Homo sapiens: one gene and its partners. The protein of the gene in region 1 interacts with the protein of each later gene in a pairwise test. Each region holds a gene or a part of one and is shown in the gene's direction. Other genes may lie near its edges.

The links.
Region 2: the proteins of RDH10 (region 1) and RMDN2 interact in binary tests that used the Homo sapiens proteins (3 or more experiments, as listed by UniProt).
Region 3: the proteins of RDH10 (region 1) and ACSF2 interact in binary tests that used the Homo sapiens proteins (3 or more experiments, as listed by UniProt).
Region 4: the proteins of RDH10 (region 1) and GAD2 interact in binary tests that used the Homo sapiens proteins (3 or more experiments, as listed by UniProt).

What each region holds. Positions count from the first base shown.
Region 1 is NC_000008.11:73,318,509-73,325,837, forward strand, and holds the end of RDH10 (retinol dehydrogenase 10), read left to right. Parts: intron 1-587; coding exon 588-686; intron 687-2,423; coding exon 2,424-2,569; intron 2,570-3,231; exon of another isoform or gene 3,232-3,579; intron 3,580-4,170; coding exon 4,171-4,302; intron 4,303-4,404; coding exon 4,405-4,528; 3' UTR 4,529-6,773; downstream 6,774-7,329. UniProt on the Homo sapiens protein: Retinol dehydrogenase with a clear preference for NADP. Converts all-trans-retinol to all-trans-retinal. Has no detectable activity towards 11-cis-retinol, 9-cis-retinol and 13-cis-retinol.
Region 2 is NC_000002.12:37,920,514-37,928,388, forward strand, and holds the start of RMDN2 (regulator of microtubule dynamics protein 2), read left to right. Parts: upstream 1-4,773; 5' UTR 4,774-4,912; intron 4,913-5,017; exon of another isoform or gene 5,018-5,193; intron 5,194-7,875.
Region 3 is NC_000017.11:50,464,015-50,471,343, forward strand, and holds part of ACSF2 (medium-chain acyl-CoA ligase ACSF2, mitochondrial isoform 2 precursor), read left to right. Parts: intron 1-203; coding exon 204-280; intron 281-481; exon of another isoform or gene 482-511; coding exon of another isoform or gene 512-585; exon of another isoform or gene 586-1,283; coding exon of another isoform or gene 1,284-1,425; intron 1,426-1,692; coding exon of another isoform or gene 1,693-1,856; intron 1,857-4,025; coding exon of another isoform or gene 4,026-4,799; exon of another isoform or gene 4,800-4,866; intron 4,867-7,013; coding exon 7,014-7,121; intron 7,122-7,329. Other genes in the region: CHAD (chondroadherin precursor), read right to left, coding at 1,284-1,425, 1,693-1,856, 4,026-4,799. UniProt on the Homo sapiens protein: Acyl-CoA synthases catalyze the initial reaction in fatty acid metabolism, by forming a thioester with CoA. Has some preference toward medium-chain substrates. Plays a role in adipocyte differentiation.
Region 4 is NC_000010.11:26,268,552-26,275,880, forward strand, and holds part of GAD2 (glutamate decarboxylase 2), read left to right. Parts: intron 1-567; coding exon 568-622; intron 623-2,088; coding exon 2,089-2,205; intron 2,206-5,084; coding exon 5,085-5,149; intron 5,150-7,329. UniProt on the Homo sapiens protein: Catalyzes the production of GABA.

The sequences.
Region 1 (7,329 bases):
TCACAAAAATAGTTCTATAATTTAGCCTGTTTTTTACATCCTAAAATACTTTGTCTCCTGCTAGTACATTTTGGTAATAAGCCTTGGGATCCCAGAGCATGCTGCTGGAGTATCTCTTCATTGATAGGTCTATTACTACGTAGACATCGCCGTAAGGCACACATTAATACAAGGCAATGTTTGTAGTAGGCTGTGGTCCCTCCTAAACCATGAGATAGCTGCATTGAAGTGTCACGAGCAGAAACAAATACCTGGCTTGGGAGTACTTTAAATTAGCAGATAACTGTCACTTGAAAGGTAATTAAGAAGCTTCTGCCAATGGCTCTCTTTTTATCTCTAGACACTGTCCCCAAAAGCTTTTAAGTTACAGTCTTGTTGGTCACGACTTATAATAGGCCTGCCATGCCGATGATACAGTGCTAAGTTAGCCAGACACTTAAAAGATCTTTTTGATAAATATAAAATATTTTTAAAGGAATTGGGAAACAAAACATCATGTGAATAAAAGTTTGTTTTGTGATCCTGGACTGGGTTTTAGATGAAATTCATGAAATCAGTTCTAAAACTTGAATCTTACTTTGTTTCAGACCACTAAGGCTTTTCTTCCTACGATGCTGGAGATTAATCATGGTCATATTGTGACAGTTGCAAGTTCCTTGGGATTGTTCAGTACTGCCGGAGTTGAGGTTTGTCAGATATATAGCATTTCTTTCGTTCAATCTGTTTATCCTGTGATAAGTACACCAGAACCTCCAGGAGAGCACCTGCTGCCCCTCCATTCATGAAAGCTGCACGAAGGCACTCTGCATGTGTGCTGCATGTAGAATGTTCCACAGGAACCCAGGGCCAGCCACTGGAATGGAATTCTATGTCAGGTGTGGTGGCGCACACCTGTAGTCCTAGCTACTTGAGAGGCTGAGGTGGGAGAATCGTGCGAGCCCAGGTGTTCAAGACTGCAGTGAGCTATGGTGGCACCACTGCACTTCAGCCTGGGAGATAGAGCAAGACCCTGTCTCTAAAACAAAACAAAGAAAGGGAATGGACTTCTGCCTCTTCTGCCATAAAATCTCTTACACTAGTTTGACAAAGCAGCAGCGACAAGAAAAGTAGATGGGCCAGCCCTCAGTGTGCCCATTTTCATTAGCAGCTTCACTTGACGATGGCAGGAGGCACAGGGCCAAGAATGGAACCATGGAAAGCTGTGGGGAACAGAAGAATGAGGCCAGAGGTTCACATTCGGTTGTGGTCACCTTGCCAAAACTGAGCTATCTTGTATTAATTAGCCCATCAGATGAGGCGGTCAGGTATCCTGCATTGTAAGTTTGTAGAATTGTAGAACTGGATTTCATCAAACCCTGTTCTTCACGATATTCAGATTATAAAGTATGAGTATATATGTTGTTCTATCCTGTTTGTCCTCTGCATGCCTGTAAAACTGAAAACATCACTCCATGCAAATATGCAAAAGGACACATTATTTAAATAGCACCTATATCAAGGGATTCCATTTCTGAAGTTGGGCCATGGACAATAACTTTTTTTCTATATTCTGTGCCTTTAGGTTAAGTTCTAGTTTAAGATTACAAGGCATGATTATCATTTTCATTTTAACTTCGCCTTACAAAGAAAGTCAAATCATAACAATTTATAGCCTAAGCTAGATTTGCCTTTATTCTTCTTGCATTAATTTAAACAAACTGGTTTTTCTTTCTCCTTTACTGAACAAGAGACCATTTGTAAATTTTCCAGACACTTCAAAGTGAACCTCTCTCCATTTTAACTTCAGCTTGTGAGCTTTCATAGAATCCTTTATGGTAACTTCCCCAAAGTAATATGATACTTAGTTGATGTGACAAAAAGTATTCATCTGTTTCTGCTGTTGCTTTGAAAATATTATTTCTGCACTGAACCACATCAGGTATCTGGTTTGTGTTTTTTTTTTGTTTTTGTTTTTGTTTTTGTTTTTGTTTTTTTTTTTTTGAGACAGAGTCTCACTCTGTCACCCAGGCTGGAGTGCAGTGGTGTGATCTTGGCTCACTGCAACCTCCACCTCCCAGGTTCAAGCAATTCTCCTGCCTCAGCCTCCTGAGTAGCTGGGACTACAGGCACAGGCCCACCATGCCCAGCTAATTTTTGTATTTTTAGTAGAGGCGGGGTTTCACCATTTTGGCCAGGCTGGTCTCGAGCTCCTGACCTTAAGTGATCCAGCCACCTCGGCCTCCCAAAGTGCTAGGATTACAGGCATGAGCCACTATGCCCAGCCAGGTATCTGTCTTTTAAAATGATTTCCTTTTCTTTGTGTAGTCACCTGTAACCTTATGTATTAGACATCTAAACATGGTAATAGGACCAGGGAAGCTTTAGTTTGGTTGGAGATAGGGGCATATGCTTAGTATTTCTGCTTTCTCCCCTCTTTAACTCAGGATTACTGTGCCAGTAAATTTGGAGTTGTGGGTTTTCATGAATCCCTGAGCCATGAACTAAAGGCTGCTGAAAAGGATGGAATTAAAACAACCTTGGTTTGCCCTTATCTTGTAGACACTGGCATGTTCAGAGGCTGCCGAATCAGGTCAGTGAGAACCTATATTATTACTGATAAAAAGAATATGTTGGGAGAATATGTGGAACTGGACTTTCAAACATAACCTTGTATTTTAACTATCATTTGACAATCTGTGGCTTTTATTGGTCAAGATTTGTAAAGTTTGTAAAATTGGTGTATAAGATTTGCAAAGGAGAGACTGGTGCTACACACTGATACTAATTTGCAGAAATTAATCCAGAATCATTAGATAGGAAATGGCTTCTCTGTAAAGAGAAAACATAAGTATCCAGTCTTTTCCTTAGAAGCTCATCTTTTGGAGTTATTTTGTTTCTTTAAAATTGGTATTGGTAAATAAGGATTCTAGAAGAAAATTCCTTCATGTGACTTGGGTCTGGATATGAAGCAATGTTACTGTCACAGAGAGTAACGTGCCTTTCTTCTGAAAAGACCATTGAATATTACACTCCAGATTTGGAAACTTCCTTTTTGCAGCAAGCGTATGTAACTAGATTCACTCTGGCAGAATGAGAAGAACCATTTAGATATACTGAAAAATGAAATAAAATACCCACACACATAGAAAGGAGGTATATGGGAATATAAATGTCAAGTTACATCTGACTTGAGCTCAGCAGAATAAACAAAACTGTGAATCATTAAGAGGATGCTTGTGAAGACATGCTTACTTTTATCTTTGCTTGGGTGAGTTTGAAAGGCAAAGGAAGATAACCAAACCAGTTCCCTGTTGGTTGGGGGCCATTCTTAACGTGTACTGAACTGAACAAGCAGCAAAATAGGTGGAAGGTGATTTGAATCACTCCAAAGTCAGGCTTGGAGTCCCAAGTCTGACCTGGAAAATGGACTCTAGCTCTGCCTCTTATCCCACACATGTGTGTGTCTGTGTGAACATGTGTGTGTGTTGGTGGTTTGTTTTGTTTTGTTTTCCTCTTATGTACTTGGGAAGCAGTTGCTGAGGGTCTTGCGGAGCTCTGTTTCCTCCAGTGTAGCATAGCAGCAGGTGCAGGGGTCCAAAGCTATGGTGGCAAAATGAAGAATGAAAGGAATAAATTGCACACTATCATTTCAACATGTAACCCAGTGAATCAAACTGAAGGTAGGATGTCTATATACCCTTCATTTCAGGGGCCCCTAGAGAATATACCTTAGCTTTCCCTCTTCCGGCATCCTGGAAAGTGGATACCTGTGGCCTTCCTTTCACTTTGAAAGCTTACACCCTCATTTTGACTACAACTAATACTAAAAGCTTGGCATCTTGCTTGAGATTAGTGTTTGCTATGCCAAACACCTTCTCCTCTTTCTATTGAAAGCAAAACATAGGAAAATAATTTGAAATACTTTTAAGGCATCTTAAAAACATGACTTTTTCATCTTATGGAAAAGCAGACCAATTTTGCTTTTTTTTCCCAACTTGTTCTCCAGACTGTGCCAATAAAATGTGTTCATAGCAGGAAAATTTGGAAAATACAGAAAAGCACTATGAAGAAAACAAAATGTACCCAAAATCCCATCACTCAGATAACATCACTGTTAATGTTTTGATATGTATTTCCAGTCTTTTCTATTGTGTTAATTTTTCATTTTGTTTTTGAATAAATAACTTTCAGGAAAGAAATTGAGCCTTTTCTGCCACCTCTGAAGCCTGATTACTGTGTGAAGCAGGCCATGAAGGCCATCCTCACTGACCAGCCCATGATCTGCACTCCCCGCCTCATGTACATCGTGACCTTCATGAAGAGGTAACTGGGAGGGGTTCCCTCACTGACTGGGTCTCTCCATGCCTGCCCGATGTCTTAATTGAAACTTCAAGTTTGCTAACAGCTGTGACTTCCCTTTTTCAGCATCCTACCATTTGAAGCAGTTGTGTGCATGTATCGGTTCCTAGGAGCGGACAAGTGTATGTACCCCTTTATTGCTCAAAGAAAGCAAGCCACAAACAATAATGAAGCAAAAAATGGAATCTAAGAATCTTTTTGTATGGAATATTACTTCTATCAGAAGATGATCAAGATGTTTCAGTCCAGTGCACATCAGCATTGCTGACATTTTATGGATTCTAAACTTGTGTTGTTTCTTTTTTAAATCAACTTTTTAAAAAAATAAAGTGTAAATTAACCGACTAGAGTACTTGGAAAATGTGATCAGTACAAGTGAACTTAGGTTGTTGCCAACAGGGTCCTTTTAGGCAGAACCCAGAAACCAGTCAAATCTGTAGAGAAGCAGTGTGACATCTTCAGGTTACCATTATTTTTTAATGAGCAGGAAGTCTAGAAATGATAACTAGACTGTATGTTTCATGTGTGTGATTTTTCAGAATTCCCAGAGTTTACTCATTCTTGTTATTAAACTCTAGCCAGTTGACATCTTCGCAATTTCAAGGACTGATAGTGCTGTATTTTCTCACGTTTTCTAAGTTTCCGTTTTGCAAGGCCTAGGTGACTTTTTCATGGTGTTTGTATGTTTAGCTCTTTTGAAAAGGAATTTTGAAATCTCCATCAACTGAAGTAAATGATGTCTGAGTGTTACAGTAAAGGTGACCAAGTCTCTTTCTTAAAGTCACAATGACTAAAGTATTAGTTGAATTTTTTTTTTTTTTTTTTTGATGGAGTCTCGCTCTGTCACCAGGCTGGAGTGCAGTAGCACAATCACGGCTCACTGCAATCTCTGCCTCCCAGTTTCAAGTGATTCTGCTGTCTCAGCCTCCCAAGTAGCTGGGACTACAGGCATGCGCCACCACGCCCAGCTAATTTTTGTATTTTTAGTAGAGACGGGGTTTCACCATGTTGGTCAGGATGGTCTCCATCTCTTGACATTGTGATCCACCTGCCTCGGCCTCCCAAAGTGCTGGGATTACAGGCATGAGCCACTGCACCCAGCCTTGAATTTTTAATTTTATCTCTGATATACTTCATTAAGTGTCTGGAGACCTAATTATCCTAAAAGATCATACATTTTCTACCTATGAATTTTGCTGCATACAGAAAGTGCCCTTTCCTCAGGAAGTTGCTGTGTTTCATTTCTTTGGATGGACTCTTATCTAGAATACATAGCAGCTCTGCAAAGGAACAGTTTTTAAAAATGGGAACTTCTACATTGAAAAGTCCCCATTTTTGTGCCAACTATGATTAGTGAGAGGAAGAAATCTTATTCTATGGCATATGTATGGAAGGGTGTAAAGATTCTTTTGAAAGGTTTATTCACATTGTAGAACAGCAAATGACATTTTTACAGTATTTTTTTGTAAAGCAAACTATTTTGTGCCTTGAATTTGGTATATGTGTATTAGTGAAACATTGTAAAGGTGAACTTCTACCTCTGTATCTAAATGTATACCATCCACTTGTAAATGACTATAAACTATTATGTGATTGCTTTTTTTTTTAGAATGTCTTGTTTAAATAGTGGCCAATGTTTAAGGCTGTTAAAATAAGCCAACTTTTACTAATTGGGGAGTTTTATAAATGACTGATTAAATTTAAAGAATTAACTTACATGCAATTGTGTGATTATTAGTTATCAGCAGTGTTGTAAGGAAAATTATTGTGTTTTTTTTTATGATCATTATCCCACTTTAGGTAAAGAAAAATATTGGAATGGAATAGTGTTGGGAAACAGACATTAACAACCTAGGGTGCCTGCACTCAAATAGCCGATGTTACTGTCCCTAGATTAGAGACTTGATTAAGGGCTTGTTTGTACCAAAAGTGGGGAAACAATGCCATGACCTGTGTTTTAGTTTGGCTGCACCACAGATCAAATCTGCACTGTGTCTACATATAGGAAAGGTCCTGGTGTGTGCTAATGTTCCCAATGCAGGACTTGAGGAAGAGCTCTGTTATATGTTTCCATTTCTCTTTATCAAAGATAACCAAACCTTATGGCCCTTATAACAATGGAGGCACTGGCTGCCTCTTAATTTTCAATCATGGACCTAAAGAAGTACTCTGAAGGGTCTCAACAATGCCAGGTGGGGACAGATATACTCAGAGATTATCCAGGTCTGCCTCCCAGCGAGCCTGGAGTACACCAGACCCTCCTAGAGAAATCTGTTATAATTTAACAACCCACTTATCCACCTTAAAACTGAGGAAAGTCGTCTTTACATCTAATTTTATTCTTGTGTGTTATAACTTAAACCTATTTCTATTTTTGTTTGTTATTGCCCTTATAAGGGTGTCCATCTCCAAGTTCAATAAACTAATTCATTTAACTTTTTTGTAGAAGTCTTTCATTCCCATGTCCCAGCCCAGTTCAATCACTTCTGTGGCTCTTCCTTGAATGTTGTCCATATTCTCCCTCCCATCTTTAGCTGTGGAGTTTGGAAAGGGATACAGTTAATGCAGGTTTAGAACTATGGAATTCCTACAAGTTGCATTTCTTCATCCCAATGTCACGTTCTTATTAATGCTACATTGCTGATTGTGTGCATTATTGTTTCTAAACATGAAATCTCTTCTAGACAAGTCTGCCTGTTTGTGTTGATCACTTATGTAATTGCCAAGGTTGCTTTTCTGGCTGGTTATTTATCTACACCTGCCCCCACCCCTTAACATGAATGCTGACTTTGAATATGTTCTCTTTTTTGTCATCTGGCCCATTCATGTGAATGTTCAGGGCCACTGCACTCAAGGCTGATCCCCTAAGGAGCACCACCTCTGTCTGTGAGCACCACCCCCAGCTCATACTGGCACTCTCCCTTTCTCTAACCTTTCAACCAATTTAATGATAATTATATTGAGTGGGACCCAGGAATCAAAAGTTTTGAA
Region 2 (7,875 bases), on another chromosome or scaffold:
TGTATAAAATCCACTTACCACCCAAGTCCAAAATGAAATTTTTTTCCAATTATTATATGTAATTAAGCATATCCAGTTATTTTAACTTTTTGTACACGTGTTAACAACATTTTGTCTGATGATGATGAATATTCACCTTTATTTTTAATTAGCGCCAGTGAAACTGACCTTAGCTTGTGAAGTTGATGTATATACTGTCAACAGTGTCCCTGAACATCATCTCCCAGGATGAAGAAAGAATGCAGAGGGAGGGGCAAAACCACTCTTCCTCTGAATCTGTCAAGTTCCACTTTGGATTGTATCCAAGGCTGTGCTTTATTTACAAAGGCCATGGAAAATCAGTGGAGGAATGTGACTTAAAAAATCTTCCACAATTTTTAAAGAAACGTCATTCTTTTCTTGAATCATCACCGAAATACTGCGGAAAACCACTGAGCAAGGTTAGTACATGCCTTTTTGAAAATGACTTTTTTCATGGAACAAAAACTTAATGTTTCTAATGAAATAGAAAGTTTCTAATAAGAATTCTATATCTTAATTAGGTATGTATACTTTTAATAAATTGATTCAACATTGAACTGCTAAGTAGCATAACATAAATATCGTTGTTAATTTTTCTTTCATACATATCTTCCTAAAATACCATTTTTAATTTGTTCAGTATAGGAGTATTAGGCCAACCATTTTATTGGATTTAAGTGATTAATAATTTATTGCACTAATCACTTAGTCTATGGAAATATTTAATAAGCTTATCCTAATGCTTTTTTCAGATAAAACATTTTTACCTTAGAAAGTCCAAGTTAGTTTCTTTTCAGAAATTTTTTTTGTAATTTTCCTGTGTTCTAGAGACTGCCTAATTTTTTTAAAACTACATCAGACATAGTATTATATTCCTCTTTTCCCCAAATTCTATTCCTAGCCTAACCTGAATATCATAAACACAAAGTAATTTTATACTCTGTGGATTAGAGGTTGTGGTAAACTGCAGAAAACCCCCCATGGGGCAAATGATCAGATTTGAGAATTCAGTTTCTCCTCTAACAGAAGCAGTGAAAGCTGAACCCTAAATAACTGAAGTGGGGGATACAAATGATGTAATATCACATTAGAAGGGCTATGATGTTCTTGTAAATGGTGCTATGAAGAGTCCCTTCAAGTGTTCTATCAAAGGCAGGGTCTGGGGGTCCAAGATGGGCTGGGTTAAGAGAAAAGGCTCTCAGACAAAGTTAAGTTTGATATTTGTCTCTAAAACTGACTATGTGGCCTGGGACAAGTTTCTTCACCTCTTGAAGCCTTGGTTTCCTCACCTGTATGTTATTTACTTCATTAGATTGTTGGGAAAATGGAATAAGATAATTCATATAAAGAACGAAGCTTGAAAACTGTGTAGAAGACTCAATAAATGTTCCTGCTGTACCTGTTGCTGCTGCCCTTTGCTCCTCCTCGTTTACAAATGATTCGGGGAACTCAGAGCTTCGGTTACACCTGGGGGACTTCTTCCTCTGCCCCTGCTCTTTGCCTGTGCGCTTCTCCCTCTCTAAATCCCTCTCTCTCAATGGTTAGGGTGTTCTTAATTTAAAAGTTTTTCCCCAGCTATTTGCAGTAAAATATTTCCTTAACCCTTTCCTTAAAATACTTTCTTAAAACCAGCCTGGAAATGAAGGTTGATTCTGCTCTTTGAAGCGGGGGTTGGGGATTTCATAGTGGTACTAATTATACCTGCAGCTCAGCCTTCAGTTTACAAATTAAGAAATTCAGCTTGTAAGTTTGATAAGATTTGGAAATAACAACAAGGAACTAGAAAATGAATAGTTAACTATATAGCATATTGGTAACTGTTAAAGGGTTAAAACTAACTTTGTCATTCAATTGCTTCCTGGAAATAAAACCACTCAAATAAAACCTAAAAAAAAAAAAAAATTGACACTCCCATCTCACATTACTATAATGAAGGACTATACATTTCCTCATGCTTTTCCCTCAAATGTACATACTACTTTCAAATAGTTATCTAATATAGAGGGTGTGCACCATGCCAGGTTCCCAAGATACAAAGATAAATGCTACCATCCTTGAAGATGTTCACAGCCTCACAAACACACAGTCACTGGCAAGCAGTAATTATATAGTGTACACCAGAGAGGTTTGCTGTAAGCTAGCAGGGAGGCATTTTGTATTCATTGAAACTCCTGGTCCTTCCATAAGTTTTGATGGGGCATGGATGAATACTTCTTATGGGGAAGGAGAGAGTGTGTAGCTTCTCAAGGGAAAGAGGTTGAAGTGGTTGAATTGGTTTTGGACGGGTGGCAAGCAACAGGATATTCCAGGCACAAGGAACAGGATAAAAAGGATACAGCTTGTGGAGAGACGATCAGTAGCTTAGCTAGTGCTGAAGTGTAGAATGATGTCTGGTGGAAGTAGCGGAGAAAAGCTGGAAAAGTAGGTTGGGGCAAATCGTGAAGGGTCTGTACCCACTCCTCCCAAATGATTGTCATGCCGTACTGGTTTGATGAATAACAGCAACTCTGAGATTCTTAGTATGTTCTGGTTTTTCCTTCAGATATTCCTTTTAGACTGACATTCCTAGTAGTGGGGAGGGGAATCATTTCTGCTTTTTTATGTCACCCCTGCAACAGTACCTGGCAAAGATAGCGCCTGTCTTTGCTATTTAGTTACAGCTTTGCCAAGGTCAATGGTTGTCACTGTCCCTGAGTTTCTACCTTTCAGATAATTTTTACTCATCAAGGAATAGAAACAAATGTATTGGAAAGGAGCAAGTGTGACATAGTCTATGTCCTGAACCTGAAGATCAAGTCAGTATCAGCTGCCATCTTCCTCTTGGAATAGACTGGTAAGGCCTTGTTCACAGCCCATACGTCACATTTTTATTGAAAGCCTCTTCTGTGCAATGTGCTGGGGATGCAGCAGTGAACAACTCAGTGGGCTCCTGGAAAAGCTTAAATTTTGTTTTAAATACTGAAAAGCTCCTTTTAAGTATTAGCGAAGAGACAGTCATGTTTCTTTGGTATCTAAATCTTGTTAAAAGAGAAAATTGTTTTGCATGATCGGTTTATATCATATTGTATTCTAGTTAAATAAAGCTAGCATTATATTGCAAGATTGCTGCAAACCATAATAAATAGGAGTGAAGTGGGTTTGTAGAAGGTAATATTTTACTAGTTCCAAATCTGAGAGGTTAAAGATTAATCTGCTCTTTTTCCAAATACAACTTAGGTTTTTGCTCTTGTTTTTTGAGACAGAGTCTCATTCTGTCCCAGACTGGTGAGCAGTGGCCCGATCTCGGCTCACTGCAACTTCTGCCTCTGAGGTTTAAGCAATTCTCATGCCTTAACCTCCCGAGCAGCTGGGACTACAGAAGTGCGCCACCACACTCGGCTAATTTTTGTATTTTTAGTAGAGATGGTGTTTCATCATATTGGCCAGGCTGGTCACGAACTCCTGGCCTCAAGTGATCCGTCCGCCTCAGCCTCTCAAAGTGCTGGGCTTACAGTCGTGAGCCACTGCGCCCTGCTACAAATTACTTTTAATAAAATGACCATGGCCAGGCTTACTTATTCTTCAATGCGGCTTGCCTGAAGCTCAAAAAATCATCTTAAAGAGCCTATAGAATCCCTGAATCCCTATCCGTAAACAGTAGTATATGGATTGCAAAACAAGCCTTCTGGATTCTTCATGGCTTTATGGGTGTTGTCTGCTGTTGCTGTTTTGAGAAAGAGTGTACCCATTTTTAATTCTGCTCAATATATTGGTGGGAAGTTTAGAGATTAATGTTATGCAAACCTAAGCTTGAGGCAGTAATACTCAAGGTGCGGACAATACAGAAGCAGTGTATGTACTGTTTTGTTTTTGTTTTTGAGACGCTCTATCACCCAGGCTGGAGTGCGGTGGCGCGATCTCGCCTCACTGCAACCTCTGCCTCCGGGTTCAAACGATTCTCCTGCCTCATCCTCCCAAGTAGCTGGGATTACAGGCGTCCACCACCACGCCCGGCTAATTTTTTGTATTTTTAGTAGAGACAGGGGTTTCGCCACGTTGGCCATACTGGTCTCGAATTCCTGACCTCAGGTGATCCGCCTGCCTCAGCCTCCCAAAGTGCTGGGATTACAGGCGTGACCCACCGCGCCCGGCCCAGTTTTTAAGAGCGTATTTAGCAGAATTAGTTTCATTATACAAACCACAGAAAGCTGGGTAAAACCTTAAATGTCAGGCATCTGAAAAAACAGCGGCTTTCATCTAAAGGCAACTCGGAATGGCGGGGAGAAGGAAGAGGCTGTCAAAATTGCTCATTAAAAGAAAACGTGAGATAAAGCTATGAACACGGGGCTGCAGATATCAGTAATTAGTGCAAGGCGTCTGCCTTTAATTCAGTCGTGAGGAGTAAAGTGCAAGGTTGTGCCTAGAAAGGGCACAGAAAAAGGTTTAACTAGGGGAGAGGGAGTGGGTTTGAGAGCCGGAACGAAGCGAGCTGGCGGTGGGCGTGCGGAGTGGCAGCAACGCGAGAGGGAACGCGCTGGGGCTAGCGCGGAGGCCCAGAGCCCAGGCGGGGGAAAAGGTGCCGACCGGCTTCGAAGGGAGGCGACGGCCGAGACACACGGTCCGGCGCGAGCCAGGCGCCCCGCGACGTGCAATTTTATTTTGCAAAAGGTGCACCCAACGCCAGTCCCGGTAGAGTTGAACCCACCACGAGAGGGAGAGGGGGCGGGAGCGGGGGGCCGAGCGGCCGCGGGCTCCTCCCCCGGCGCCTCCGCTATCTGGGTCAGGACGCGACGGCCGCGGCGCGGGACCTTAGGACCCGCGGGCTCCAGGGCTACTGTCCGTCCGCCACTGCGCGCCAGCAGGTCCTGGTCTCCGCTCTCCAACAGCTGAAAGGCCGGCGCAGTGAACACAGGTGCGTGCGCAGTCTGGGAGGGGGCTGCTCAGCCGCTGGGGGCCGGACCGCGCCGGGGACTTGCGGAGGGAAGCGGAAATACTTGCGGTGGGGGCGACTGCACTTCCGGGTCGGTGTGTCCCTGGCGAAGCTTGAGCCTGCTAGCCAGCGGTGCTCTGCGTTCCCGGGGCTGGAGCAGCGGCCCATAGTGGCTTCCCGGGTTCATCCCTCGCTGACCCTGCGCCACGGAAGCCCTAGCCCCGGAGGTCGCTGGTATTTCCTCGCACGCGGACCCTTCTGGGGTGCGTGGGGAACAGGCAGTTTGCTGCCTCGGCCCGGCTGGTCCCTGCAAACCCCAAAGAATTTCAACAGAGACACTTGCTGGGCTCTCGCTCGGCTTTCAGCCTTGCGCAAACATTTTGTTTTTGTTTGTGTGGGGTTTTTTTTGCTCTCAGACTCCGTCTGTGCCTATTTCACACAAAAACGAAGGCCGGATTATCAGTGCTGCCAACATAGGGGAATGAGGCAAACACTTGGGAGCCCTAAATTTAAAATAAATTATAAAATACAAAAAAACCATGAAAACCTGATGAAATGAACAATAGAATTCACTTCGAAAGTACCAGGTTTTCCAGGACGCTGTAGGAAATCTGATCACTAGTTCAAGGTCTCAGTGCAATTCTCTTAGGAAACTTAAACCTCGGGCTTTTTTGTAATGTCTCTTTATCCTTGCAAAATTTGTCATACCTTCCCCGAGTTTATTAGAGTTATGCATTTTATATTTTTCTCCTCTAAGGGTCTGCTGATGAAGTTAATGAATATCTGTGCTAGATTTATGGTGAAAGCATTATAATTAATTTAGTAAAGCATAATTTCTACATCAAAAAATTAATTTTAAATAAAACTAGAACATGGAAATGAAATGTTTCTTCAGACATTTCTTCAGAAAACATTTCATATTCTATTTTCTTTAGAGTCAACATTTTGATGTCATTTTAGAATACTTGATTCTCATCTCAACCTTTAATATTACACAATAATACACATTAATTAAGTGCCATAATCTATATTAAAATGTCATTTTCCATTGTTATTTACTAGCACCTTACAAATTGAAACGTAACATAATACTTTGTATCTGATTATTAAAATATTAGAGTTTTAAAATCTGTTTGGTAAAGTTTTTAATTACTATATTTTTTTATACTACAAGTGTATACTATTAACATAATTAGAAGTATGAAAGCTAACAAGGCTGGAGGCAGTGGCCCATGCTGCTTATCCCAGCACTTTGAGAGGTGGAGGCAGGATTGCTTGGGCCCAGGAGTTCGGGACCAGCCTAGCAACATAGGGAGACTCACTCTCTACAAGTAATGTAAAAATTAGCCGGGCGTGGTTGCCCACGCTTGTGGTCCTAGCTACTAGGGAGGCTGAGGCAGGAGGATGACTTGAGCCCAAGTGGTCGAGGCTACAGTGAGCAGTGATTGTACCACTGCACTCCAGCCTAGGTGACAGAGCGAGACTCTAAAAAAAAAAAGCTATGTAAATGACTTCATACAACCTTTGAAATTATTCTGAAGGCAAGCAAGTACTCTGATGTATTTTGTACATTATTTTTAATGTGTCATTTTTCAAATTATCAGTGTTGAAGCACATTTGTTTTATGCTGTTATAAAACTCAAACATAGCTTGAACTGTTAGTCTTTAATTGTGTTTGTTTAAAACATCAGCTCCGTTGATTCTATTTTTTTCTAGTTAATTTTTGTGGTTCTGAAATAATATTTCAGCTTTGAGCATCTCTGTTCAGTCAGTACTCTCCTTCACCTCCTTGTTGATGCTTTCCAAATCTCCCACATGTTGTGGGTGCATCCAAGAGTTAGGAACAGGTTGTCAAAGGTGACAGTTTTCACTTCCCAGTTGGGTGATCACTGGGTAAGTGACTTGACACCTGTGTGCCTCAGTTCACTTATCTGCAAAATAATAATAGGACCTGCATGGAAGAGATGATTTGGAATTGGTGCAGTTCCTAAAGAAAGGGCCAAGCAAAATAAGACTTTCCCACCTGCTGAAACCTGGTCCTGTCTCAAGAATAAGTTCTCCTTCCTAGGTAGATTTTTACTTCTACTTATTTGCTTATTAAATGAAAATATTTTCAAACTAGGCTATATTTCTTAATGTAAAAGTCCAAGGTATGGGCAAAAGAAAGCAATCAGAATAGGAAGATTTCCTTTAATAGACCTCTATATCAGCGAATGGACATCCTGCCTGAATAATTTTATTGACAAAAATAAAGATGATTAAACTTGATGTGTGAATATTAGCTGGAATGCAGTTGTAATTAATGGGCATAGAGTGACTTATTTTTTTGCAATAAGCTTTCAAGATAATTTAGTTTTGTGATACAATTTTTTTGTAGAATACATTTACACATCTAGCAATAATTAGCTACAATTTCAGCTGAAGTTACAAATTGATTGGAATCTGTTGCTGGCATGTCTCCTGGATGAGCTGGGAGTGGGCAGATGGTTATAGTTCCCAGTTATACCAATTAGGTGAAAAAAAATTTTTTTAAGTTAATTCCAGGCAAATTTCTGTGAGGTAAAGCAGGCCAGATTAAGTACCAAGGCTTTCTCTGGAATCTTTGGTTTAAAAGAAGGAATTCTTAAATCTCTTGGATATAATATTCACTAACACCTGAGGTAATTTCTGGAAGATTATTTTAAAGTCAGTCCTTCTCTTTGACACTTAGGCCTGTAATGAAGTGTAGAACATCCAAACAGGATACTTTCTGTGTTCCAGGCATATACTCTAGTGAAATAGGAATCCAAAGACGTTCTTATTTTAAGCAGGCTTTTCAGAAATAGATTATGGCTGCTTGTTCTCTCAGACCCTCTTCCATAGGGCATTTGCGAGCCCAGAAATCCTAACCAGTAGACCACCAAGGAAGCATTTGAAACATTACATTTAGTTGGCCATTTGAAGTG
Region 3 (7,329 bases), on another chromosome or scaffold:
GAAGGACGCTGTAAAAATGTGGGTGGGAGGGAGGGAGATCCCCAGTGTCCCTGGACACCAGCCCAGGGCCAGCTGCCAGGTGTAGGAAAGGCTCGGGGTCAGAGGAGAAAAGGGAATGTTCCTCCCCTGAATGAGCTGTAGGTGAAAGGACTCCACTGGGCCTGGAGAATTGGGGAGCTGTGTCAGCCCTCTCTCTGATTCAGGTGTCATTGCTGGGTCCCCTGCACCTCCAGAGTTGATCCGAGCCATCATCAACAAGATAAATATGAAGGACCTGGTGGTGAGTGGTGACTGCGGCCCGGGCTGTGGGCAGGCCAGGCCTGGGATGACAGCAGATGGACAGACATGGGGATGAGTCCAGGCCAGATGTTCAAAGGAGACCCTCTCAGCCAGCCCTCCTTCCAGAAAGCAGATGTGAGAAAAGATAGTCTGACCTCATCAGCACCTGGTGGGTGAAGGAGATAGGTGGCAGGGGAGTAAATATAATACATACATACATTTATATTTATAGAAATCTCAGGAAGAAATTGCAGCATGGGAAGATGGACAGCAAAGCACCGATGTCCTGCTAGAACGTCCTGGCAGGTGGGGGCTGGCAGAGTTGGGGCATGGGCTTTAAAACCCTTTCTGGAAGCAAGGGGTGGGGCAAGGATCTGATGATTGTTTCCACGTGGCAGGGAAAGAGGAACAGAGGAAGGATGATCCTGGGAGGGTGGCCATCCTGATGACCAACCTGTTGTGGTTCTGATTGACTTGGGGGGGGGGTCTCAGCAACAGCTTCTCCAAGAGGAGCTGGAGGGTGGGGAAGGCATGAAGGCTGGGGAGAGGCTCAGCCTTCCTTCTCCCCAGGACACTGCTGGGTGGAGCTGGGTTGGTAGTGGAGTGCCCGAGGCCCCCTGCCAGGACGTGTCTAGGTGTAGGCAGCTCTGTGCATCAGCAGAGGCTGTGGGGAGAAGGTATGGGTGGAGGTGAGAAGGTCAGTAGTCTCTCCGGTGGAAGGCAGAGGCCAGTCACCAGGACTGGCTGGGTCAGAACCTGCAAAGAGGCAAAGATCGATGTCAGTACTCCAACAACACAGATGATGCTTGAAGAAAATGGTGGAAGTCCTGGGCAGGACCTTTTCCTCCCTTCAACAGGGGACCCAGTCGTCCCCTCCTCTCTCTGTAAAAATGGAGGGTCTGCCTGACCCTCCAGGGCCAGGGGGTATCCTGGAAGATACCAGCTCACTTGCTGGAATCACCAAAGAGGGACATAGGGGACCTGTTTACCTGGCCCCCACCTGTTTAATGGCGGCCAGCTTTCTTGGACCTCTTGGTGGGGAACTTGCAGCTGCGGAAGGCGTCCGTGTCACGGATGTGCTGGCCCTTGAACTTGGCAGGTGAGGCACAGGTGGCATCTGGGCGGGAGGCCTTGGCTTCCAGCCACCTGGAGAGACAGAAACTTGCTGGGGCTGGGGAAGAAGGTGGGAGTGCTGGGGGGAAGGGCAGTGAACTATGGGGCCAGGATTGACTTGGCCACAGGATAGTCTGAAGCTGTCATCTTCATTTTACAAATGGGGAAACTGAGGCTCCCAGGGTCCCATGCTTATTAGGTAGCAGATCTAGGATGCATGTCCAACATGTCTTAGTGCAGGGCTAATGTGCCTCTATCACATGAGGGTGGGCTCTGGGAGTGACATGGAAGTGTTCTTACCGCCGAAGGCCCCGGAGCTGGCAGGTACACTTCCAGGGGTTATTGGTAAGGGCGAGGGTCTCCAGGCTGTCGAAGGGGAAGTTGGAGGGTAGCTGGTTCAAGCGGTTGTTCTCCAAATGGACGTGTTTCAGCGTGGTTACACCCAGGAAGGCACCATCTGAGAACTGGGGAGCAAGGTGGGAGCAAGGTGGGAGCAAGGTGGTCATGAGTGAATGAGTAAGCACCCGAGTGCCAGAGGGGCAGGATCCTTCCCTGAACCTGAGCCATAGCACTTTGAGGAGTTTCCCAGTTTTCAAAGCAGTATGACCAAGTGATCTCAGATAATCCAATCTACACAACCCCCTTTGAGACAGATGGTGTTATTTTCTTTTTTTTTTTTTTTTCCTTTTTTTTTTTTTGAGATGGAGTCTCACTGTGTTGCCCAGGCTGGAGCACAGTGGCACGATCTCAGCTCACTGCAAGCTCCGCCTCCCGGGTTCACGCCATTCTCCGGCCTCAGCCTCCTGAGTAGCTGGGACTACAAGTGCCCGCCACCATGCCCGGCTAATTTTTTTGTATTTTTTTAGTAGAGACGCAGTTTCACCATGTTAGCCAGGATGGTCTCGATCTCCTGACCTCGTGATCTACCCGCCTCAGCCTCCCAAAGTGCTGGGATTACAGGCGTGAGCCACCACGCCCAGCCAGGTGGTGTTATTTTCAATATGCAAATGGGGAAACGGAAAAAGCGCAGTCCTTTGCCCTGGGTCACAGCAGTGGGTAAACAGTAGCCACAGGACCACACCCAGCTCCTCTTCCCCTGGCACCACAATCCCTGCACAAACACTGGGACTGTGGGGCTGCCAGAGTTTGGCCCCAGCAATCCAAACTGGTACACGGTGAACTTGGTCTGTGCTTGGTGGAGTGGGCAGTGGGCCCAGGCTCCCCACAGTCCCAGGGTCCCAGGACTTCCCTCAGCTCTGTCCTCACTGCTCCCCCACTGCCAGCCAGACGCTATTTGTGAAGCCACCTTGGTGGAGCCTTTGGCCAGGTTGGACGGCTCCAGAGGAAATGTTCTATTGGTGCCCACACCTTTGCCCAGGCGCCACAATTCCTGTCTGGCCTCCCCTGCCCCAAACCAGCCCCTAATTCGCTGCTCTGCTGCCCACTGAAAGACCACTCTGGCACTGGTGGGCCACAGGGGACTCCAACTTCAGCTGGGGAGAGGCAGGGCTGAAGAAGGGCAGGCTTGAGCAGGCTCCTTCCACCCAGACAAAGGTTGGCTGCTGCCCAAGTGAGATTCTGCCCACATCTCCACACCCGCACCCTTTCCTGTGGCCCACATTGAGGTATGAAGGTCTCCAGTAACCAGACTCTCCTCTACCTTGTTGGTTCCCCACCCAAACCTCCTGGCTGAAGCCCCTGTACCAGGGTGATTTTTCCAGTCCCAGAGAAGGGATTCTGCTCTGATCCAAGGTAGCCCCACCTGGCCAGACACTGGGCACCCCAGGGGAGAAAGGAATGAGTGAGGATGCAGACAGGAGATGGGTCTAGTGACGGAGGAGGGCAAAGGGCAGTTAGCAGTCTGGAGACAGTGAGTCACGCCAGTCTTCTCTGTGGAGAGACACCTGGGGTCTTGGGCCAAGGATTGACAATAGTGGTCTTGCCTTTGCCCCTTCACGGAGCCCATGGGCACGATGCTTGCATCCTGGGGGAGCCCTTGGTCCCACGCCTACTGAGCTGCAATGGACTTGAGAATGCAGTGAATTGTGTCTGTGTGGATTGGGCAGGGCCATCCACCAGGGCCTCTATGGGGCATGGAGAATGTCTTCCTCAGGCATTTGCTTCCCCTCACTCCCCAGTCCCCCACTCCCCCTTAGCACACATGCACAGCCCCCACCAGGAACAGGGTCTCTTTGTGGGCCTGATCTGCCCAGCTCCTCTGGAAGGCTCCTCAATAAACAAACCTTCCTTTATGGGGTGGTAGGTTTACTGGAGACGGGAAAAACAGCAGAGGAGGGGTGGAAGGCCCAACAGGAAGAGGTGGCTGCTGCTCACAGTTGGGGGTTTGGAAGCACTGGAGATGGCCCTAGGGGGCCTTTTGTGGGGCCAGGGCAGTCCCACTCCTTTTATATGTAAGAATCCTAGGAGGGCAGTGGTCGAGACTGGCAGCAGACAGGGATTAGGGTAGGGATGTGACAAGGCGAGGAAGGGAGGTGGCAGAGCTGCTCACCTTGGAGATAGCCAGAGGGACAGGGAACCTGGGGACGGGGGATGGTGCCAGCTGTGGCCCTGGCTCCTGGGGCCTCCAGGAAGGGAAGAAGGAACCAGGGCAGAGCCCACAGCCAGGAGCTCACCTTCTCCAGGTTGGTGTTGTCCAGCCAGAGGGTCTCCAGGTATCTGCCAAAGGACTGGAAGGCATTGTCCGGGATGCTTTTCAGGGGGTTGTGGGACAGCTTCAGCTCCTCCACCACCCGTAGCTTGCTCAGGGCAGCTGAGGGGTAGCTGGACAGCTGGTTCCTGTCCACGTGGAATTTGGCGAGGTTCTCCACGTCGTCCAGGGCCCCGGGCTGCAGGGAGCTCAACGCGTTTTCCGACAGGTAGAGCCAGCGCAGGTCCTTGGCTCCCTGGAAGGCGCCTGCGCGCAGCTCACGGATCTTGTTGTTGTTGAGCTGCAAGATGAAGAGGTTGACCAGCGGGGAGAGCAACCCCCGGGGCAGCTCAGTGACCTTGTTGTGGTCCAGGTAGAGGTAGGTCAGCTCGGTCAGGTCGTCGAAGGCACCTGCGCGCAGCACGCGGATGTCGTTATGGGACAGGTACAAGTAGATAAGTTGCTTGAGGCCGCGGAAGGCACCGGCGGCCACCTCGCGGATCTGGCAGTGCTGCAGGTGCAATGACACGAGGTTCGGCATGGCCCGGAACGAATTGGCAGCCAGCACCGGGAAGTTGTTGCGCTGTAGGTTGAGCAGCTTGGTCTTCTCTGACACCTTGGGGATCTTCTGCAGCCCCACCTTGTCGCAGATGACGTGCTGCAGGTCGCTGTGGCAGTGGCAGTTCTGGGGGCAGGCGGCCAGCGCCGGCAGCAGACCAGCCAGGAGGCCGAGGCTGAGCAAGAGCATTGGGCGGACCATGGCTGGGACGCCTGGGGCCGGGGCTGGGGGCAGCAGCGGCGGCGGGGCGCGGGCAGCGGCGAGTCCTAGGCGCTCGGGTCTGCCGCCCTCTTTATACGGTGGCCCTGACCGCAGCCGGCAGCCGAGCCAGCTCCTACGTGGAGCATCGAGGCCACTGGGCTTAACTCGCTCGCGCCCAGAGATGCGCCCCCGCCCTCCACGGGGAAGGGGGCGGGGCCGTTCCCCCAGCCGGCTACCGTGCATGAGGGGGTGGGACCGTGGCCCCCGAGCCCCGAGCCCTGAGCCCCGGCTGTAGCCCCCCGCTCTCCTATGGTGCTCCTCTGCCTACCGCCTTTCCCGGGGCTTTTCTGGGAAGGGGGAATAGTTATGTCTGGAGCCCCGAGTTTACATCGGAGAGAGGGAGGCGTTCCCTCAACTTATTTGTTTGCTCAGGTTTGAGCCTCCACGCCGCGCCATCCACACACGCTCGGCCGGGTGCCCTGGATGCGAGGCGGGAGGAAGCGGGGCCGGACAGCTGGATGCGTCTCCCTGCGGTGGGCCAGCTGCCTGCGCTTTAAAGGGGCGCTTGTGCGGCGCCTGCCGAGCGTGAGAGCCGCCCCGGCGTCGGTCTCCCACTTCAGACTCGACGCGCCGAAGCTGGCCCTGGGTAGACCCGAGCTCCTTCCCCACCCTCGGGCGCGCCCCCACCCCTCTCTTCCAACCCCGCTTGCGTTTCTGTCGCCGGCGCCCTCATCCCCTTTTTCCACCGCTGAAGGCTAAGCAGAGAAGTGGGAAGTGGGGGAGAGTGGCCCACAGGAATGGCAAACACACCTGGAAACCACAGGCCACAAGCACAGTCGCACCATCCCCCCTCCTTCATCGCCCCGAAATATCTCCATCCCTCATCCCCAACCCTAGTGGTCAGGACCCGCCCCTGAGGGGTCTCAGGGTGGCGGCTGAGTGGCGCCGAGGTGTACTTGGCAGATGCCACATTCGGGCGGTGGCCCCAGGACTGTGAGGAGGGGTGCGGGAGGGGGTGGGGCAGGTCGAGGGACCAGCCCTGGACGGCTCTGGCTGCCAGACCCTAAGTTCTGTGGGCAGTCCCGCCCCAGCCCGCCAGATTTCTGTGTGCCCACTTGCCAGCCACGATGTCCGGATTCCTGTGGAAAGGGGAGGGTGAGCAGGCAGGGTCACAGCTCTGGCCTCAGGGTGAGCTCCAAGCTGCCTGGCACAGGATATTGTCTGTGATGAGGGGTGGAAGGAGAAACCAGAACCCACATTGAACCAAACCCCAGCCGTGCCAGAGCCAGAGCAGCTGATATGGGGGAAGCTTGGTGCAGGGAGGAGGATGGATGAGATCTGGTATCCGTTGATTAAAGGGGACCTAGGATACGGGGTAACTAGCCTCTCTTCCCTTACCCAGTACCCTCGTGTTGGGGCCTGGTTTCCAGGGCCTGCCCTTTTCCCAAACCTCTCTGCCCCTTGCCTCTAGGATAGGAGGGTCATACTTGGCCTAGACCATTCCTTGATGGTATTTAGGCTTCTCCAAGGCTGGCTTCTGGTTTTTCTGTTGCTCAGGCTTTCCAACCACTGGAAATGGGGGAGGTGGGGTGGGGGTACCACTGGTTTTTAAAATCACTGCTTAGGTTGTTTTTTTATTTTGATGGAAATAAATTCACGGGAAACTCTCCAGAGCTTGGGGGACGCCTGCCCCAAGGCCAGGCACTTGTTCAGGGTTTGCAGAATGCGGGGGTGGGGTTGTGTCTGTGCCACTCCTAGCTGGGCCAAGGCAGGCTGGCTTTCTCATCAAGTTTATGGGGCCTTCAGCTTGGAAGGGAGGAGCCGGGGATGTGGCCTGAAATCAGGAAGGTGGGGTTAAGGCAGCCAGGGGATGGGGGGAGAAGTGTGGGGTGTTGGTAATACCGGAGCCACAGGCACAGACAGGTGGCTGCTCCAGGGAAACGGGGCACTGAGAGAGCTCCAGCTGGAAGAGAATGGTGTCCCTGCTCTCAATTTTCTTTCAGATCTGGGGCCCTGCAGAGATCTAGTCTGCTCACTCCCAGCACCTCTGCCTCCTGACCCCAGGCCCCTACCAATGATGTCTCTGTTTCCACCATTCGGCTGCCCTCCACTTTCCCTTTTCTTTTATGAATTCCTTCCCATTTCCTCAGATAGCTCACCTGATCCCTCTGCACGTGCTGAGCCCTCTTCAAACACCCTTTCTGGACCCTCTAGGTTGCTTATGGAACCACAGAGAACAGTCCCGTGACATTCGCGCACTTCCCTGAGGACACTGTGGAGCAGAAGGCAGAAAGCGTGGGCAGAATTATGCCTCACACGGAGGTGAGCCCCTGACCAAGACTCCAAAGTCCCACCTCCCGTCACCCAGCTGGGGTGCACCCAGCTGGGACATCGGTTGCTTTCAGTGAGAGAGTCAAATGGCTCACTCAGGATGCCTAGAGCCCCCCAGCAGCAGGGGTGTGCTAGGCCTGGCCCGGAGTGTTCTCTGTGGGCTAAGCATGAAAGGGGAAGAGCTGGAACAGTGGCTGTG
Region 4 (7,329 bases), on another chromosome or scaffold:
TAGGAAAGAAGCATTTTTAGGGTTGAAAGGATGTTTGAAACTTGAGCCCATGAATTTTTGGCCTTCTTTACGCTTTTAGCACTTGGAATGTCATTAGGTAGCTATTTCACTTAGTATCTTCATCCAGATATTTCAGAATGGATTTTCTCTTCCTGCTGTTTCATTGGTATGTGAAATTGCAGGTCGGTTTATTCAAAGGTTTGGAATAAAAAGGTTTCTCTGAACTCTCCTTTCATTGCCAAACATTTTGCTCCAAATCAGGCTTGTTTTAACTGAATTAAGAGGATGACTTAATAAGAAGCTTCTGTGCACAGCAGAGGGTCATGGTAATCGTTCTATAGGGAACAACACAATACGGTCACAAGTCTGCAAAACGTGCCAGAAATGATAGTCATGCCTCATCCAGGCAAGTAAATGCATCCTTCCTGGAAGCAGTCAAGGAGTTGTTTTCTCCGAGTATTGTTATCAACAGTTTGGGGTTGGACTTTACCCTCCTGCGGCCACTTACGTTGTAAAGACGATGAAGCAAATTATTCAAAGCAAATCTATATTTCTTTTTCCTTCCAGAGGGAAAATGATTCCATCTGATCTTGAAAGAAGGATTCTTGAAGCCAAACAGAAAGTAAGTTTCTGCCGGGAGCTTTATCCAGCCCATATTTCTATTTCCATCCACCGGAGAACAAAATGTGTTTTGGTTTTATTTTAAAAAGAGGATCCAAGCCTCAATCTCCCAGGTTTAATGAGAACATAGAATTCTGCATCCAGTCACTATTTATTTCTCTGGGTTATAGGCTCTGCTTTAGAAAAGTTTAAATTGCTGAATAAATATTATATACAGAGATACAGTGAGCGTTTCCAAAGCATTTGTCTTCCTAGGTACTGAGGGTTGGCATGAAACACCCACACATTTGAAAGAATATTTTCAGAGGCGGGGAAATAGCAGAATGCTAATGCAGTATGTGAGAGACCCTGGTGCAGTTCTTCAAAAGGGGCCAGTTTTTCCCGTGTAGGTGCATGCTGTTAGCATTGGCTCTCCAGACGTCTTATTTTGCAGGAAGCAATTTAGAACTCTTTTCAGAAGTAACAAGTTCTGAATGCCTGCCCAAGATTCCCAAAGCTCTAGAAAGTCATTTACAACCTGGGATGGCTCACAAATCAGAGAATTTGTTTCTAGAATTCTTTGTTTACCATTTGGTAGATATAACCTACAGTTTCTGATTTAATAACATACACATGCATTTTATCATTAGGAACTCAGAAATAATGATTTACGTTCATATGCCCTTTTTCGTTTGGTTTTGTTTTACTAAGTGGCAGGCAGCAGGAGAAGGTTTCCCTCCTTGTGCAAGTACTAGAACTACTTCTAGTAACATCAACTAGAAGATTAAACCTTTGCTGCCACCTAAAGACTGACACCATAACATCACGTTCTATAGACAGGACAGAGTCCTTATGGAATGAGGGACTATGGCGATCCTGTTTGTGGCATTCTCCTGCCTTCTTCCAGCCCGTTACTTCAATCAGTTTTCATTTAGCCATGGCCAGAGAGACTGAGGACTAGTTAGACGGATAAAAGTCATGGCGTATTATTTTAGCCGCTCCGTGCTGAAACGTGAAATAAATTATCTGGGCATTTTCCAAATAGGAATAATGGGCTGGTCAGAGCTACTTCTCTTCATTCTCCTGCCTACTCACTCTAGGGGATTTATGAAGTTCAGAGGCCTCGTTGTGAATAAGGAACACTTGAAAGTGAGCAAAGGGGGTTAAAAGGGCCAGAAAGTCTACCGGGAATATATACATGTCTCGGGGACGTCCCTGACAGCCTCTGGGTTCACTACAGCCTCTTCTGAGAATCAGAATGTCTGTTCTTTTAAGACACAGTCAGGTCCAACAGCATAGCCTAGAGAACTCAGATTCCAGAGAGTGAACATCAATTTGTCCCAGACCCCGGGGTGTCAGTAACTCTGCTGCTGCTTCCTCAAATTCAGACGTGTCTGTTAGGGAGAGAATTTCCATTGCTTTGAATCAGCTTTTTAAAAGAACCCTTGACTCTGTTTTCCATGATTTGGGGCTTTCTCGTTCGCACAGGGGTTTGTTCCTTTCCTCGTGAGTGCCACAGCTGGAACCACCGTGTACGGAGCATTTGACCCCCTCTTAGCTGTCGCTGACATTTGCAAAAAGTATAAGATCTGGATGCATGTGGATGTAAGTATCCCTTAGGGACTGGCCACTAAAACGTCCTTGCACGTTTTTCATGTGGGACACACAAAGGAAATTTGTTTTCTCTTTTTTTAACTTGGTCAGCTTATTTTCAGAGTGGTGATATTAAAGCTTTTAAAGCTGGATGAAGCAAATTAGCACACAACTCACACAGTACACACCGTGCACCAGAAGCATCCCAAGGCTGATTATACCTTAATGTCCCCAACATGGTAATATTTGTATTTCTATGATCAGTACCCAAGCTGACCACTTTGTTCTCAATTCATCGAGCCATTGCATCCATGGAGGAATACAACCTACGCACACAGTCCTGCTGTTCCTCACTTACCAGAATGGTCAGAAGAGTAAAGAGGAGTTGCATTTATGTAGGAAACCCAGAGAATTAAAAACAAACAAAAGCAAAAAACTGAAGCTCAAGTTAGATATTCCTGTATTTAGAGAGGAAAATAGGCTTGACAACTTCCTGGGAAATAAGGACCACCAAAGTTCCAATTTCGTAGCTTGGTCAGCTAAGAAGATAGATTATATTTGAAACGTTTTGACTTCAGGCCTTGTCACACTAAAAAATAATGAAGGTGTTCCCTCCAGAACATTTTCCAATGAAAAAAAATGTGTTAAGTTTTAGAAGGACCGAAGGGATTTAAGTTTAGATTAGTATTACTCAAAGTGTGGTTTGACGATTAGCTACCACCTGCAAACTGTTAATGATCCATATGAGATAAAGAGTTTGTGCCAAACCATCATCAGTCACAAACCATCGCTAATCACAAACCATCACAAACTAAGCGCAATGCTTGGCTCAGCTGATAATTTTTTCATTGCAAGACTTTCTCAGTGAAGGAACGCATAAGTTGATGTTCATTCGAGTGCAAGATCCTTATGTTGTCATGGGCCAGCACTGGGTCTAAGCCAGGGCTATAACAATGATCTAGCCCTGGCTTAGATCATTTTGGCTTTATAATAATTATTCAGACCAAATTAATGCTCTTTTTTTTTTCTTTTTGAGACAGAGTCTTGCTCTGTCGCCCAGGCAGGAGTGCAGTGGCGTGATCTTAGCTCACCGCAACCTCCGCCTCCAGGGTTCAAGCAATTCTCCTGCCTCAGCTTCCTGAGTAGCTGGGATTACAGACGTGCGCACCCATGCCCAGCTAATTTTTGCAATTTTAGTAGAGATGGGATTTCTCCATATTGGCCAGGCTGCTCTCGAACTCCTGACCTCAGGTGATCCACCTGCCTTGGCCTCCCAAAATGCTGGGATTACAGGCAGGAGCCACCACACCTGGCCTCATTAATGTTCTTTTCTTTAGGGGCAGAAAATTTCCACAGGCTTAGCTGGGTGCATTTCCATTATTCCAGAGTATTCCTGCAGAGCAATCACCAATGTTCTTTATCCTCCCTGATTCACAGTGTGAGTCGTTCATTAGGCTACCAGAGCCCCTTTCATTTTACACATGAAGACACTGAGAAAAGACTGAACTATCCGATATCATTAGTGACCTGGGCCTCAGGACTGGAAATCCTGGTAGACCTTGCTGGCTGATTCAGGAAGAGGATTACCCGGCAACTTCAAAAATGAGAATGTCTGTGTGTCCTGAGCCAGCAGAAGCTATGGGTTGTTCCTCTGGGCCTCCTACTTAAATTAGAACTAGGGAATCTTTTAACCAGTTTTATTAGCTTTTCTTTGAAACATACCAAGTTTACCACTTACTCTTATTAGCTTTAACATTCATACATTCTATAAAGTAGAAAGAATCTTAAAATAGTACACGTTTGGAAAATCATAATTTTTCAAAGTGCAAAAGAACTGGGCCAGGTGCAGTGTCTCACGCCTGTAATCCCAGCACTTTGGGAGGCTGAGGCAGGTGGATTACCTGAAGTCAGAAGTTCGAGACCAGCCTGGCCAGCATGGTGAAACCTCGTCTCTACTAAAAATACAAAAATTAGCCAGGCATGGTGGTGGGTGCCTGTAATCCCAGCTACTTGGGAGGCTGAGGCAGGAGAATTGCTTGAACCCAGGAGGCAGAGGTTGCAGTGAGCCAAGATCTCACCATTGCACTCCAGCCTGGGCAACAAGAGCAAAACTCTGTCTCAGAAACAAAACAAAACAAAAAGAGGGCTGAACTTACAACAAAAGGTGGGGGGAAGTGATTATATCATAAAAGAATTTTATAATCCATTTAAAATTATCCTAGAATTATTTGTACACACAGAGGAAAGAAAGTTAATATTTCCAAATGAATCTCCATCTTGGCATTCTATTTTTAAAGGAGATTACTACACCAATTCAAATCTTCAACCTTGATCAAGTACAAATTGTTAAGACGTGTTCTAACTGCTCAGCTAATTAACTGGTATGAATCTTCCCTGCTTGTGAATTTTGGACACAGAAATTATCCAAAATCACACATCAGTGAAATAGAGTTATGAAGCCACTTCTTATTTCTGGAATCATTTAGACTTGTCAAAAGAGTTTTCCCTGCAACTTGGAAGCTGTTTAATGGCCCTCCTGCCCATCTTCTCTGCCTTACACTGTGGGGACCACAGGGTTTCGTATTCTGAGAACATGACTTCATGAGGACTAATGGTGCTGGTGATAGGTTTGGGAGAGGGTCTTTCTCTCTCTTCTACGGACCAGGAGCTATGCCTCCAAGGTGGCTCCTTACACCCATATAAATGTGGGATGGAATCTGAGACCTTAGAAGGGCCCTTCGGTGTAAACTCTGAAGGTTAGTGCCAGAAGGAGGTGGTCAACTTCCTAAGTGGCCTGGGGTCAAGATCATTTTCACCTAGAAAGACACCAGACTATAGAAATCTAGGCAATGACAAACTGCTACCATTTTCCTCATATGATTTTTTTTCAGGCAGCTTGGGGTGGGGGATTACTGATGTCCCGAAAACACAAGTGGAAACTGAGTGGCGTGGAGAGGTATGTTGCATTTTTCTTATTAACAACATAAAGTGTTAAAAGCTAACTGTGAAACACAAATTACAGTCAATTTCCAGGAACTTTTGGAATACTGAGTGAACTCACTCTATTCAGTGCTTGTGTTCCTTGCCTTATGTGGTATTACACTCATGAATGTGGGTAAACAACAGAAAAATCAAATATGTAAATATTATGTGTAAACAACAGAAAAATCAGAATACACATCAAGCGACCCAGGTAGAATCTCTTTCAGACATAGAGATTCCTGTCTAGGGTCTATTCCTGGGATCTCTGAACCAACCACAAAAATTGTTTAAAACCTACAGGCAGCCCACGTTTTACTAGGGAGAAGATTTATAGCTTTCATGTTTCATAAAAGGATAATATCCACTGCTTAAAAAAAATAATAATTTTTCAAAGCAAATAAGCACCTTGTAACTTATCAATGTTGAAAGTTTGGGTTTGGGGTCTAAGATGGCCAGTTCACTTAAAGTGAAACATACTAGCAATAGCCTCATCTCATGTTTCATTCCCGTAATAACCTTTCTCTGACACAGCTCCGACTGATGCTGCAAAGCACCTTTTATTTAGAGCCTACGCAGAAGACTGTTGAGAAAAGCTGAAAAACACAAAGGCAGTGATATCTGATTGGCATAAAGCACATTCAGGTCCAAAGAAAAGAGAACAACAGAATGCAAAATACAGGCTCTGGTTCTGAACCACATGCAAGGGGAGCCCAGTTCTCTCATCACAACATGGCAGGTCAGACACAGTGGTGAGCTCTGGCACTCCAAGTGACCAAGAAAGCCTGAATTCATCAGAGGCTGCCAAATGCCCACCATCCCCTGCCAAGTCGCCAGATGCTGCCCAGCAAAAGCGTCACACTGGCTCTGCCACTAGATATCTTGGCACAGTTTCTGTTCCAGGACAAGGAGAGACGCTGATGGAGCACAGAGGCACTTGTGAGCCCTGGGCATGTGGGAGGCCCAGGCCAGAGTGGCTGTGCAGAGGGTGCGATCTGACACCCAGGCCCAAAATACACAGAGAACCCGTGAGTGTGGAAAGAGAGGGGTATGGTTACTGGGCTGGAGTCAAGAGCATCCCACCAAATTAATGGAAAGAAGGCAAAAAAGAGTTGGGATACACCAGCTAAGGCCCATGTCAGAAGGGTCACTGTCCCTGAGTCTGATGGCTGGGGTCAGAGCCTGGCCTGAGCACAGCGGTGTTAAGGCACCTGGAGCCACCCAAGCTCTGATTGCAGGGCCCCATTTAGATGCCAGTGGATGAGGGCAGGTGTGTCTCCCTCCCAGGGTCAGCCAGTGCCAGGCCTCTGCTCTTGGACCCTTGGGGCTTCTCTCAGGCCTAATCCCTTTCCATCTTGAAGATCTGCAAGAAAGCAGAAGCTTAAGGAAGAGGCAATGAAGTAAACAGGGAGAGACAATAAAAGAGAGAGAGAGAACAACTTGGAAGGTGCCTGCTCACATGATCAGAACAATAATTAAATTCATGTGCTTTCAAGAGAGGTGGCCTATGTACAGTACTTTCTCTTCTGTGAGTTTCTGACTGGCACAAAAAGTCTGTTACTTTACCTTTGATGCCACTTGCAACTGTAAGTGCTGAAAGTCCTGGCACATCCTCCACTTAAAAACTCACTAAATTACCTACCCTGAGCCTTAGAAAAATAAACACCCACACGATTCTGTACCAAAGACTATTATTTGAGAGCAAAGCTTAGAACGTTCATCAGGGAACACAGAGTTTCCTCTTATTGCCGCAATTCTTGAAACTGTACTGTAACTAAACTTTTCAAATGGAATAACCATATATGAAGTCCTAAAAATGAGGGGGCTGCTGGTGTTCCACTCTGAGCAGAATCCCCTTTAGCCACCCATTTAACTGAGGATACCCCTCTCTCACTGACTTATTAGCAAAAGGCATACTTTCTAAGTGAATACAGTTGGAAGACCAGTGGAAACCACATAATGTGTATGGCCACAAGTTTAGGAAAGAAATGTGTCTCACTTAGGGAATGACATTTTTCCAAGCTCCGCAAACCAAAGTTTAGAACTCACCCTAAAAGTAGAAGAAATCCGTAGTCAATTCTTGTCCCCAAATCCAGAGGATCCTTAGTAGTCACAGAGGATCCTGAATGCCATTCTCATACAAAATGGCACAAGGGG